Linked DNA regions of Homo sapiens: regions 1 and 3 are each linked to region 2. The links come from fine-mapping of genetic effects on gene expression. A gene starts in region 2. Each other region holds a variant in brackets. All regions are shown on one strand. Distances are between the middles of the regions.

What was found. PIP is the estimated chance that this variant, and not a neighbour inherited with it, causes the effect.
Region 1: its variant is the best candidate, but not a certain one, in a credible set for the expression of HPS4 in fibroblasts (GTEx, PIP 0.78).
Region 3: its variant is the best candidate, but not a certain one, in a credible set for the expression of HPS4 in whole blood (INTERVAL, PIP 0.89).

Annotation. Positions count from the first base shown.
Region 1 is chr22:26,503,686-26,507,922 of GRCh38, forward strand. It overlaps TFIP11 (tuftelin interacting protein 11), which reads right to left. Exons shown (of 15, transcript NM_012143.4): 5 at 3,090-3,243; 6 at 2,618-2,774; 7 at 1-108. Among named protein-coding and RNA genes, the nearest start is that of TFIP11, 6.7 kb to the right of the region's middle. RefSeq lists an enhancer at 2,395-3,594. The variant A/AGTGCAGTGGC (reference allele first, on the strand shown) is at 2,086.
Region 2 is chr22:26,481,659-26,485,926 of GRCh38, forward strand. HPS4 (HPS4 biogenesis of lysosomal organelles complex 3 subunit 2) reads right to left here and starts at 2,125. Exons shown (of 14, transcript NM_022081.6): 1 at 2,016-2,125; 2 at 64-582. The coding sequence starts at 104. It overlaps SRRD (SRR1 domain containing), which reads left to right and starts at 2,219. Exons shown (of 7, transcript NM_001013694.3): 1 at 2,219-2,441. The coding sequence starts at 2,233. RefSeq lists an enhancer at 2,173-2,292 and a silencer at 2,313-2,402.
Region 3 is chr22:26,512,432-26,516,431 of GRCh38, forward strand. It overlaps TFIP11 (tuftelin interacting protein 11), which reads right to left and starts at 42. Exons shown (of 15, transcript NM_012143.4): 1 at 1-42. TFIP11-DT (TFIP11 divergent transcript) reads left to right here and starts at 101. Exons shown (of 2, transcript NR_144529.1): 1 at 101-603; 2 at 981-2,137. RefSeq lists enhancers at 1-104, 327-864. The variant C/T (reference allele first, on the strand shown) is at 1,864.

The DNA.
Region 1 (4,237 bases), 22 kb after region 2:
AGTCAACCACAGGGAAGTCTTGCATGGACTGAGTGGTGCGCTCGGATCCATAAGCCCCCACAGCACCTTTTCCCTTTCTCTGCTTGGCTTCAATTGGGTTAATGATACCTGAGGAATTTCAGCAAAAAAAAAAGAGAGTCTTACGATCACAGCAATTCATGTATGTGAATCAGCCACTCAGTGAAATGACAGTTTCTTGCTCCTTCCACAAAATAACATGCTACTCAGGAAGGAGAGCTATTCTCTGCCCTCAGAACACTACTCTTGTCCCTTGTGATTTGAAACTTATGAGCATTTATGCTACCACAGAACAGTCTGCTGACTAGTTTATTTATATCCCAAATAGATTTCCATTTCCACTTGGATTGTTTAGTGGACAGGAAGAAAACAGAACACTACATTTATAACTGAGAACTCCAGCACACTAAATTCTATGCTTCACTTCTTTGGGAGCCTCTATTAGGGAAAATGCAATAATTCCAATACTATACTGATTCTGACTGAAGTGAAGCTGCAATTTAATATAAGACTCCTCACATATTTTACTTAGGAGTTCCTATCTCCTGTGTTTAACTTTTTTATAACAAGTTTAAGCCCTGGAAATAAACGTTGTTTTTCTCATAAAAGAGTTTACGAATAGGACCACAACATTTCAATGAAGACGTTCCCCTGACTCCAAATTTTCCATCCCTGCCCCCCTTCCATTTAGTTCCACTGAAGTCTTAAATAAGAGCTATCCCTGGGCCAGATGTGGTGGCTATGCTTGTAATCCTAGCACTTTGGGAGGCCAAGGTCTTGAACCAGCCTGGGCAACATAGTAAGACCCCATCTACAAAAAAAGAAAAAATTAGCCAGGCACAGCAGAGTGTGCCTGTGGTCCCAGCTACTTGGCAGGGTTGAGCCCAGGAGGTTGAGGCTGCAGTGAGCTATGATCATGCCATGCCATTGCACTCTACCCTAGGTAACAGAGTGAGACTTTGTATCAAAAAAAAGCAAAAAAACTGTCCCCTCATTCTCATTCAGTGTATCTTTACTCAAGTTCATGTATTTTTCATGTACCTAATGTTTTCAACACATAACCTGGATTTCACTTTAATAATTATTTAGAGGCCAGGCGCAGTGGCTCACACCTATAATCCCAGCACTTTGGGAGGCCGAGGAGGATGGATCACTTGAGGTCAGGAGTTCGAGACCAGCCTGGCCAACACAGTAAAACCCTGTCTCTACCAAAAATACAAAAATTAGCTGGGCGTGGTGGCGGGTGCCTGTAATCCCTGCTACTCGGGAGGCTGAGGCAGGAGAATCACTTGAACCCAGGAGGTGGAAGTTGCAGATGAGTTGAGATCGTGCCACTGCACTCCAGTCTGGGTGACAAGAGTGAAATTCTGTCTCAAAAAATAATAATGTTATTATTATTATTTAGAGACTGGAATTTGAATATGTAGGATACATTTGATTATATCTACTTGGCAATCATGCATAGGAAATAGCTCAAGAAGAGGGGGAAATGTTCCTGTAGGAAGAATCCAACTGTTTGGTTTGAGAGGCTTTGGTCTCAAGAAGGTAAGAGTGTGACAGGGGCTGTGTCTCAATGGGGCTGGCCATGAGAAGACAGGAGGAGACTGGGCTACTAGAGGAAGATGGAAGTAACCAATGCAGGATTTGCTCAGCCAGTTTTATAGCCATATGGCTCTAGCTATTACAAAAACTATGCACGATGTTTTACTGATATTCCTGAAGGACAAATAGGGTTATTTCCACAAAATTAAAACCCTTGTGAGTAGGGATGGCAAACTCAAATGACTCTGGGACCAAGAAAAGTTCCTGTGGGTTGGGGTGGAAGACAACAGGGGGTAATGGAGACTGCCTCCAAGAGAAGGCCATGTCCATCGTCCCAGGAGCAGTTCTCACTTGCCTCAACTAACTACTGCCAGGCAAAATCTAGAATTTTAGGTGAAATTGTCTGTTTTTTAAATATTAGCAACTAATTCATTTTTGTTTTTATTTATTCTATTTATTTATTTATTTATTTATTTATTTATTTATTTATTCAGGGATGGAGTCTCGCTCTGTTGCCCAGGCTGG[A/AGTGCAGTGGC]GTGATCTCGGCTCACTGCAACCCCCACTTCCTGGGTTCAAGCGATTCTCCTGCCTCAGCCTCCTGAGTAGCTGGGATTACAGGCACATGCCTCCACACCCAACTGATTTTTGTATTTTTAGTAGAGACGGGGTTTCACCATGTTCATCAGGCTGGTCTTGAACTCCTGACCTCAAGCGATCCACCACCCGCCTTGGCCTCCCAAAGTGCTGGGATTACAGGTATGAGCCACCACACCCAGCCTCATTTTTGTTTTTAGAAGCACTGGTCAGGACCAGAAAAAAAGCCTGTTTTCAACCTGTTTGCAGCCTGTTTTAGACCCTAACCCTTTCCTTGCTGTTGAAACAATTACTTATTTAACTTGAGCTTTGATAAAGCAAGGTAGCTTAGGAACGCAAATGTCTTGTGCTGGCAAACCAGGCTGGAGAGATAAAGTGCTTTTAAAAGGGAAAAGCAAACCTCCTCTCCCAACGCCCCTCTCCTTCCCTATGCCTGCCCTCCTCCATCATGCAAGACGACAAAGGTGCAATACCTTGTGCATTCTTCCCGAGGCCCCGTCCAGGGACGTAGCCCATCTTCTGAAGAAGCTTCTGTCCAATTCCTTTTGTGTGTCTTTCCCAGCTGCCGAAGTCCATGAAAGATTTGGTTCCTCCTGCAAAACCTTTCTGGCTGGGCTTAAAATTGCCACCCTGCAAAAAAGAAAAATCAAAGCTTAGTTAATGGAAAAACAAAATGAAGAAAAATCTAAGAAAGCTTGGCCAACAGGAAAATGGCCTAAGTTATACAGCACTATGAAAAGTGTCATATGAACCAAAAATGTGTGTGATAACGTGTCAGGAAGGAAGAGACTGCACTACACACTTCACAACTCACAGAAACCTGCCACCAAAAGGAGACACTCACGAAATTCATTCCAGATGAGTTTCTCCCTGGCTAGAAAATGCTTGGGCCACAATGACCTTTGAAGGATATTCCTAGGGTCACAATCCTGCAATAGAGACTACCGTTTTTAGCTTCCTTGGTCCAAAATCCTTAGGAAAGTCGTCCTGCTTAACAGGTTTCTCTTCGTCATCAGAATCTTCCAACTCTGCCTCCTCCGCTGCCCCTTTCTTGAGCCCTGCGCTGATGAAGTTGACTGGCGCAGAGTAGTCACGGGCCCTGTAGGCACAGAAACAAAGCCCCACCAGGTCGGTAAAGAACTCTTTTCTCTGCAGCGATCCTTTTGCAGAAACTACGTGCTTGAAGACTCCTTAGAGTGAATCTCATGGGAGGTTTTTTAAAAAAGTAACACATTTTTTAATGTGTCAAAAAATCCAAAGGACCCCAGATTTGGCTTCCTGTAGTCACATTTAACATTTTACCTGACATATCCCTCTACGGCTGAAGAGTTATCACATCAATGTAGGGTTGATTACAAATTCAAAATATGATGTGATAATACAATTTTCCTACATTTTAAAAAATTAATTTATCATAAAAAGCAATTGTTTTGAAAACTATTTCAAGTACAAAAATCCAACAGGAGCAGAAATTTTGATGGAAAATCATAAATAAAACCCATTGAAAGATTATATGAATGTAAAGCATGTAACAATTATATTAATCAAACTTAGAAAAAGCTCCTAGCCATTAAATTTATTTGAATGTGAAAATTTCCAGCCAGGGCAACATGGTGAGACTTCGTCTCTATAAAAAAAAAATAAATAAAAATTAGCCAGGCATGGTTGTGCAAGCCTGTGGTCCTAACTACATGGGAAGCTGAGATGGGAGGATTGCTTGAGCCCAGGAAGTTGAAGCTGCGGTGAACTATAATCATGTCACTGCACCCCAGCCTGGGCAAAAGAGTGAGACCTTATCTCCAAAAAAAAAAAAAAAAGAAAAGAAAATTACACTAAAGTCCCCTAAGAAATAAGAAATTAACTCTATAAAATGAAATATATTGATTTAAACTCTGACTGCTTCAAGTACTTACATTAAGCCATTAACCTCAGGTCTTTTTTGTATAAAATAAAATTGATATATTTGTACTGTGTGGTTTAAAAAAGAAAAAATTACAATAAAAAACCCTGGAGCCAGGTACAGCGGCTCATGCCCATAATCTCAGCACTTTGGGAGGCTTGAGGCCAGGAGTTCAAGACCAGCTGGGCCAACA
Region 2 (4,268 bases):
TAACCCCAAAACTCTAACCAACAGCCCAGCAAAAGCTATGCCATGGCAGGCCTTGTTACTCACCACGAGGCTGACTTTGCCTCTGTGGAGGTAGAGGTGGCCATCTACTGTGCAGTCATCCTCATTCTCTTCATTTAGGTTTTCTTTTCCGGTATCACTTCTTTCTCCCTAGCTGTGACCGTTCCTCTATCCCCCAATCCAGTGAATCTGGACGTGGTAGGTTTCAGTGTTTTCAGTCACAACTGCCACTTGGTTAGTTTTCACTCAGCATGGAAAGTTCCACTTCCCTTCCTTGCAGGTTCTTCAGTTTCATGTATATTTCCATGCCTCTTACAACTCAGGGAGAAACTATAACAGAGAATCCTAGCAGAAAAGTCAAATCCATTCCTCTGGTTTCCTAAGTATCACTGTGGCTGTCTGCAGAACCACCTCTTCAAGCTCCTCTCCAGGAAAGCCAAAAGTGGGAGATGCATGCTAGAGCTGGTGTTCTAAAGAAATTTCTAGCTTGTCTAGTTCAAACCCATCCTGAAGACTCTTATTAAACGTTTTGAAGTTTCCAGTTCAAACATCAGTGCCTTGGCTCTGAAATAAACACAAGGAATAGATATTTCAGCAACTCGTGAGAGAGCATGTGACCCAGCAGGATTAAACGAATGGTATATTTCAAAAGAGCTTTCTGTGAGGGTGACAATCATGCTTCAAAATCAAAGAGGGAGGCTTGCAGAGACTTCAGAGTAAGGGCTTTAGTTTCTCGAACAGTTAAGGGAAACACACCACAAGCTTCACGGAAGATAAAATCAAATGACAGGGTGAAAATGCTCTAGGTGTGGACAGCTATACAAATAAACCAGTTGCTGTGGTAATAATGGAACCCAAATTAAGGAACTGTCATCTTGACAGTCCAAAAGTAACCTGAACATGCAGAATTCCAGAGCAGGGCAAATTTCTAAAAAATGAAGAGAACTTTATCAAATGGCTTTCAAACTTCCACAAGAGAAAGACAGCTCAGTGTATCACGGAATTTCAGAGTCGGAAGGAACCCTGGCATCGTTTACTCTACTCTCCTGCACTCTTTTCCAAAAATTACCTTGGCTGTCTCTGCTTTACACCCTCCAGAGATGCGTGGTTCACTATGTTACATTTCTCCTTCCAACAAACTAAAATCTGCGTTCCAGATTTTACATCTGCCTCCCACTCGCTAGTCTGGATAACGCTCTGCAGGAAAACACAAAACAAGGTCTAATTCTTCCATGTGACAACCTCTTGGTCACTTCAAAACTATTGTCTAATTCTTACTGTCACTTTCTCCAAGCTTAATGCTTTAGCAACATGGTCTCAAATGTTTGCTCACCATTCTGCAATCTGTGGGTACACAATACAGTTTGTTAAAAGTCTCTAGAGACGACCCCCATTGAATATTTGACGGCCTGTAAAATCTCTATCTCTTCTCAGCTCTAGATATTTTGGATTGGGCCTCCACAGGACCACACTCATTGTATTCTATGGAGCATATTTGGGTGCCTGTGGAGGGGGTATCTCTGTTACTGGAACCAAGGACAGCAGCCTAAAACTCCCCATCCCTTGTTCCCAGAGGACTGGGCCCTACACTACCGAGGTCCTCTCTTATCTCTGAAAGGTCCAGAAGAGACCAATAATGGCCCTGGAGTAGGAAGAGACGTCGGAACATGAGCAGAAAAGGATCTGGTAGCCTGGGAAGTAATAGTAACAACGCGGGGCTGGGGCTGGTGATACTGCTGTGGGAAGGGGCCTCAGTGGGGCAGCAGGGCTGGAAAACGGACGCTAATGGCTGGAAAAGGGCCAGGAAGCTGCTGGGCGCAGCCCCCGGGGCGCAGGCAGCGACTGGTAACAGCACTAGGGCTGTGCGGTGTCTGGCCCCAGCTCTACGGGACTGGGAAATGGTGGGCGAACGCCTAAGGATTAGGCGGGGTCGGGTCACGCTCTAAGCTGGGGGCCCGCCCCTCGGTATCCCCGCGCTCCGAGCGCCGCCCACCCACCGGAGTAGCCAGGCATCCCAGTGCTCGGGGTTCGGGACTCTGGACCAGAAATGTGGGCAGCAGCTGGGTACCTGCGACTTCTGCCCCGTACCTGCGCGCGCGGCAGAGAGGCCTTAGGTCACGCGCCGCCCCGCCTACCTCCCCCTCCAGCTCCTGGCAAGCCGGCGCGCGGCGATGACGTGCCGAGTGCGCCGCACGCCGCTGACGTCAGAGACCAATGGCTGCGGCCGCAGCTGCGGCGCTGGAATCCTGGCAGGCGGCGGCTCCGCGGAAGAGGCGCTCCGCGGCTCGACGGCCGCGGCGGAGGGAGGCGGCGCCCCGGGGGAGAGAGGCGGCGCCCCGGGGGAGAGAGGCGGCGCCCCGGGGCCCCGAGGCGGAGTTCGAGTCTGACAGCGGAGTCGTGCTTCGTCGCATCTGGGAGGCTGAGTGAGTGCAGGCTCGGCCCTGATGGAATCTTTGCGCCCATGGGCAATTCTGAGCCACAGTCTCCCCATCTGTAGAGTGGAGATATAATGCACACCCTTTAAGGAGTTATTGTGAAGAGTTAACGTAGGTAACGAGCTCATTAAAGATGTGGATTATAGTAAGCGCTCAGTTAAAGGTCGTCTTTCCTTTTATTACGGTTACAGCTGCGTGACCTTGGACAATTTATAATCTCTGTGCCTCAGTTTTCTCATCTGTGAGATGGGGATGAAAATAGTACATACGTAGGTTTGTTTTGAGGATTCAATGAATTAGTAAACGGAAACCATTTTCTGGCACGTGGTAAGCACTGTGCCAGTGTTTGCTATTAATATTATGCCGATGTTGATATTATTGGTGGTGGTGACACGAGGGAAGCAACATGAACACGTGACTGCTATCATCAGGCAGCTGCTATGTGCCTGACATTAGCTTAATCATTCTACACACTTTATGTTAAACATTGCAGGCATACTAGGACCCTGGTAGCTCACTGATTCTCAAAGAGACAAAGAAAATGTGTGGAACCAGATTTCAAACCCAGGTCTTTGTGACAAAAACCAGTGCTTCCAGCTTTCCATTATGCTTGTTGCTTATCCCAGCCCAGATTCTCACATACCTTGCTCTGTACCTTAGAAAGTACATAGAGAGTGCCTAATACAGAGGAAACACTCAATAAATGTTACTTATTATTGTTATTTAGTATTATTATCTTTATTCGCAGTTTTGTTTAGGCTCAATAAATAACAGCTTTAGTTAGCACTTAAGATCAGCATCCGAAGGGCCGTCACAAGGGGAGAAATTAGATTAATTTTGTGTGCTCCTCTCCCCTAGAATTAGGGTCAAGAGGCAGTAATGTCCCAGAGTTTACCTCTGAAGAGAAAGTTGCTGACCATTTGGCTCAGCCTGAATAAAAAGCACCTGCGATTATTTTTAAGCTCTCAGAGGATGCCAGTGAGAGTGAATGTGCCTAGGGGTTTGGAAAACTCAAGGCATTTTTCATATCCCTTGACACTGTCACGATCTCCTCAACTGCTTCAGTATTCCCCAGGAGCTCCTTGCTTCTCCCAACACCCAAGTGTGGTGCAATCACCATCGCTCTGAGTAGAGATTGAGCCAGCATTTTACACGCATATCTGTGTACGCATTTACCAGTTCATAAAGCATTCCTGTGTACATCAGAACTCTCTACCCTCTGTGAGAAACGTGCAGCAGCCTCTGGGCCGACTTTCAATTCTCTGTACTCCTTTCTGAACCCCATAATCACTGTCTCTGGCTGTGGCTTGTCAGTTTAAATCCAGTTCATTTTAATTCACTGTTGACTTTCTTTTGCTCTGGGTCTGTAAAACCAGTTGACTTGAATAAAGAAAGCCCAGACACTTGGTTTTGTCTCTTTACTTTCCCCTTAAAACTATTTATAATAACAAATACCATTTGTTGAGTACCTGCTATGTGCCAGACACTGGGCTAAGAATGTTAACCCATTTTATGCCTCTAAACTCCTCCGTGTTGGGAATGATTTTTATCCCCATTTTAGAGATGAGGAAACTAAAGCTCAGAAAGGCTAATTCTGAGCACTTAACAACCATTTATTGAGCTGCAATTCTATGCTAGGCTCTGTTGTAGACTGAGAATAGACCCAGATCTCTCTCTGGGAATCAAGGACCTCCTCCAGCATACTCTCTCCTGCAGTCTCTGAGCCCCAGCAGTATGTGCTCTGGCTCTGGACATATTCAACATATATCCCCCTCCTATCACTTGGTAAGGGTGGGCCCTGCATTGCAGGGCACC
Region 3 (4,000 bases), 31 kb after region 2:
TCCGCGCGAGAAGACGCCGCTCCTACACCAGAACCCGGAAGCACCGTGGCCGGCGCGCCGGAAATGACGTTAGTCGACAGCGGATGTCCTGCTGGCTGCCAGGGCAGCGTGGGACGCTACGGCGGATATGGCTGCAGAGCGGCCGGCTGGGATCTTAGATAGGAGGGGTGGATTTGCAAGGCCTAGAATAGCTGGGGAGTGGTTTCCCCGCGGAATCGGCCTCCCTGCCGCTCCTGCTTTGTACTGTGACGCTCAGCCTGTGATGACTGGTGTGGAATCCGCTGAGCCACCTTGGCCTAAGGAGACTTTACCACTCTGAGATTGTAAATCTGTAAAATAGAGATGTAGGATTAGCCCATACGGTAGTTGTGGTAAATACTGTGAGACAATAAGGGGCCTGGGACACAGCATTCAAATGGGAATAATGAAGGTCAAGACTGTGATTCCTGTATCTTTGACGCTCTCGGTATAAGCACCGTCGTGGGCACAGGGCAGTGGCCTTTATGCAGGAGTTTAAGAGGGAATGAAGGAATGAATGGGCAAACTCTGGAGTTCCCAAGTATTCTCTCCAGGAGCTGTTTCCATTCTTTTCGTTTCCAGCAGGTTGGTAAATTCATTAATTTATTCATTGATCTAATTAAAATATACTAAGTGCCCCTCACCTGTGCTAGGCCAATGTGATACAATGAGCAGAACAGTCATGGGCCCTCCCTGGGAAGCCCTCACTAGCCCAAGGACTCCTTGTAGACATTTAAGTGTCCACAGGCTCTGGAGTTCCAACCTTGAGTGCAATTTAGCAGCTGTGGACCTTGGGCAAGTCATTACATCTAAGCCTGTTTTCTCTTCTGCAAAATGGTTAAGGATTCAATAAGATAAAACTGTAGGCAATGAAAACCGTACCTGGTAACAGTAGGTGCTGAAGAAGTGTTAGCTATTAATTTTTGCTTAATTTTTCTCTCTCTGCTCTATGTGATGAAAAGATTCAAGAGGCAATTGTTGGAATGTAAAAAGAGCACGGGACTTGGAGTCAAATACTTAAGTCTACCATCAAGTAGTTGTTAAGAATTAAACAACAATTTTTGTGTACCCAGTTAAATGTGGGCTGCTTAGGAATGATGACTGTGTCTTAATGATCTCTGTATTCTTAGTGACATGTAGAATCATTGTGCCTGACACATAGTATGTACTCAGGAAAGAAATGGAAAATGTGGTTTTAGCATTGAAGGCCGGGAGAGAGGGTCTAACAGACTACAAGCCCTGCCAGGAGCAGAGTAAGGGAAACAGAGGAGAAAAGTGTTTTTAGTCTGTGCCTGAATGTATTTACATCTGTTTGTAGCCCAAAAGCCAAAAGCATACATACGCTTGGCTTTTCTGTAGCTATGTTTATGGCTTTACAGCAGATTTTATGGAGCTGCAATTACTTTGATCATGAGGGACTGATGCTAGTGGATTTACTTCACCAAATGGAACTCACTTTGTGGCTTCTGAAGAAGGGACCTTTGTGGACTGTCATGGAGTAGTTAAGAGTGCAGGCTCTGATTTAGTGATCAGAGTCTGCATTGTCAGGAATGGGACAAAGTGAAGTTATGTGGCACTTGATAGGATGCCCTGAGAAGATTGCAACATCACCCCTGTGATATTCCTGCTGAAGATCCATAACCTGGATGTAATCATGAGGATATATCAGACAAACCCACGTAAAGAGACATGCTGTATACAAAACTGTAATCTTAGAAAGTGCCAAGGTCATGAAAATCAAAGATAGACCCTGGAACTGTTCCAAACTGGAGGGGACCAAAGAGGCATGACAACTAAACACAACACATGATTCTGAACTGGATCTTTTTGCTTGAAAGGAAGTTA[C/T]AGGGACAGTTGGAAAAGTTTAAATGGGGCCTACAATGCCGTGGTAATGATGTGTCCGTGTTAATTTCCTGATTTTCATGGTTGCCTGTTAAGTTACATCAGAGGATGTTCTTGTTTGCTGGAAAGTAAATCAATGTATTTGGCAGGGGATAAGGCATCAAATGGTCACCTTAATTTCAAATTATTACAGGGAAAATGTTTCTCTCTGTACTTAATAACTTTTTTGCAATTTCTTAAAATGAAAGCTCTGGAGTAAAAACTTCAAGGATCCAAATCTCGACTTTGCTACTTCTTAGGTATGGGCCCGAGGGCAGGTTGCTTCACCTCTCTACACCTCAATTTTTCCATCTGTAGATTGGGGATAGTGACAGTACTGATCTAAGAGAGTTGTTTAGAGAAAAACAAAAACAGAAAGTGATAATTAGTGCATGTAAAGCTCCTGGCATGGTAAGAGCTTTCTAAAGGATTGTGGCTATATTCTTATTTATTTATTTATTTATTTATTGAGACAGAGTCTCACTCTGTCGCCCAGGCTAGAGTGCAGCAGCACAATCTTCGCTCATTTGCAACCTCTACCTCCCAGATTCAAGTGATTCTCATGCCTCAGCCTCCCGAGTAGCTGTCATTACAGGCGCAGCTGTAGTGATTCTCATGCCTCAGCCTCTCGAGTAGCTGGCGTTACGCCGCCACGCCCAGCTAATTTTTGTTTTTTTATTTGTTTTAATTTTTTTTTCCCCCAGACAGAGTCTCACTGTGTCACCCAGGCTGGAGTGCAGTGGCACGATCTCAGCTCACTGCAACATATGCTTCCTGGGTTCAAGCAATTCTCCTGTCTCAGCCTCCTGAGTAGCTGGGATTACAGGTGTGCGCCACCACGCCTGGCTACTTTTTGTATTTTTATTAGAGATGGGGTTTCAACATGTTGGCCAAGCTGGTTTCGAACTCCTGACCTCGTGATCCACCTGCCTTGGCCTCCCAAAGTGCTGGGATTACAGGCGTGAGCCACTGCGCCAGCCTTCATTTTTAAAAACCCAATGTCATACCCCTTTCAGTCTCAAAAATCCATGGTTTTTCAGGATTTCTGGGATCAAATGCCCAGCCTTTGAAAAACAAGGAAAAGTTTTACAAGGCAACCAGAGCTTTAGGTTCAAGGTCTCATATCTATCGTGATCTCCTGTCATTTCCTAGAGGGGAAAAAAAAAAACAAAAACATTGCTTTGAGATTTGGGAACATCCACACTCATTTCTACATTCCCAATGAGGTGCTCAGACATGTGGCCTTCGCAGAAGGGGTTGCCAAAGCAACAAGGCTCCTTGGGCAGAAGGAGTCTGGCAGGGCCCTCCAGCACTCATGGGTCTATACCTCTCTTTTCGCAGCTGAGGCGGTGGGGGAGCCCCTGGCAGAGTGGAGGTGCCAGCACCACACAGTGAGTTTAAGGACAGGGCCAGGCCTGAAACCCAGGAGCTCAAACTCCCAGGCAGGTGCTTTCTTTGCAAAACCATGCATGGGGTCCCACATCATGATTCCTGTGTGTTCAGGGCCACAGAGCCAAACTCTGCAGACATCATCTCTTTGATTCTTCAGCCTTCTAAGGTAGTTTGTTATAACCCCAGAGTCCACATTCCTAACCTCTTATTTCTACAGCCTATGCCATACAGCACACTTTCCATATTGCCTACAAAAGATTTCGGGAAAAAAATATCGTCACTTAGTTACAACTTTAAATAGGTTGGTACCATAGAAACAATCCATAAGTGGCATTTCAAAGCTGATATATTTAAAGACTAGCACATGTACTTTTTCTAGGACAGTGACATTATACAGTTGCACATGGCTTATTCTTATTTTGCATTTTGTCCCAAAAATATATATGGTGTCCTTAACTTGGCAGAATTGAGAACCCAGATCAGCTGAGATTAGCAATTTGATTTCCCTCTAAATGTTTCTTACAGATGGTTTCTACCCTACTTATCTTTCAAGAATTCGTGAAGACTCTATCCTTATATGGAAAGCTGGAACATGAGGTTCCTTAGGCTCGGGGTGTTTATCTGGAAATTAAATATCCGCAAAACACAGTAAGGGGAGAAACCACAGCCTTCATCATTCATTTATTCATTTGTCATTAACAAATAATTA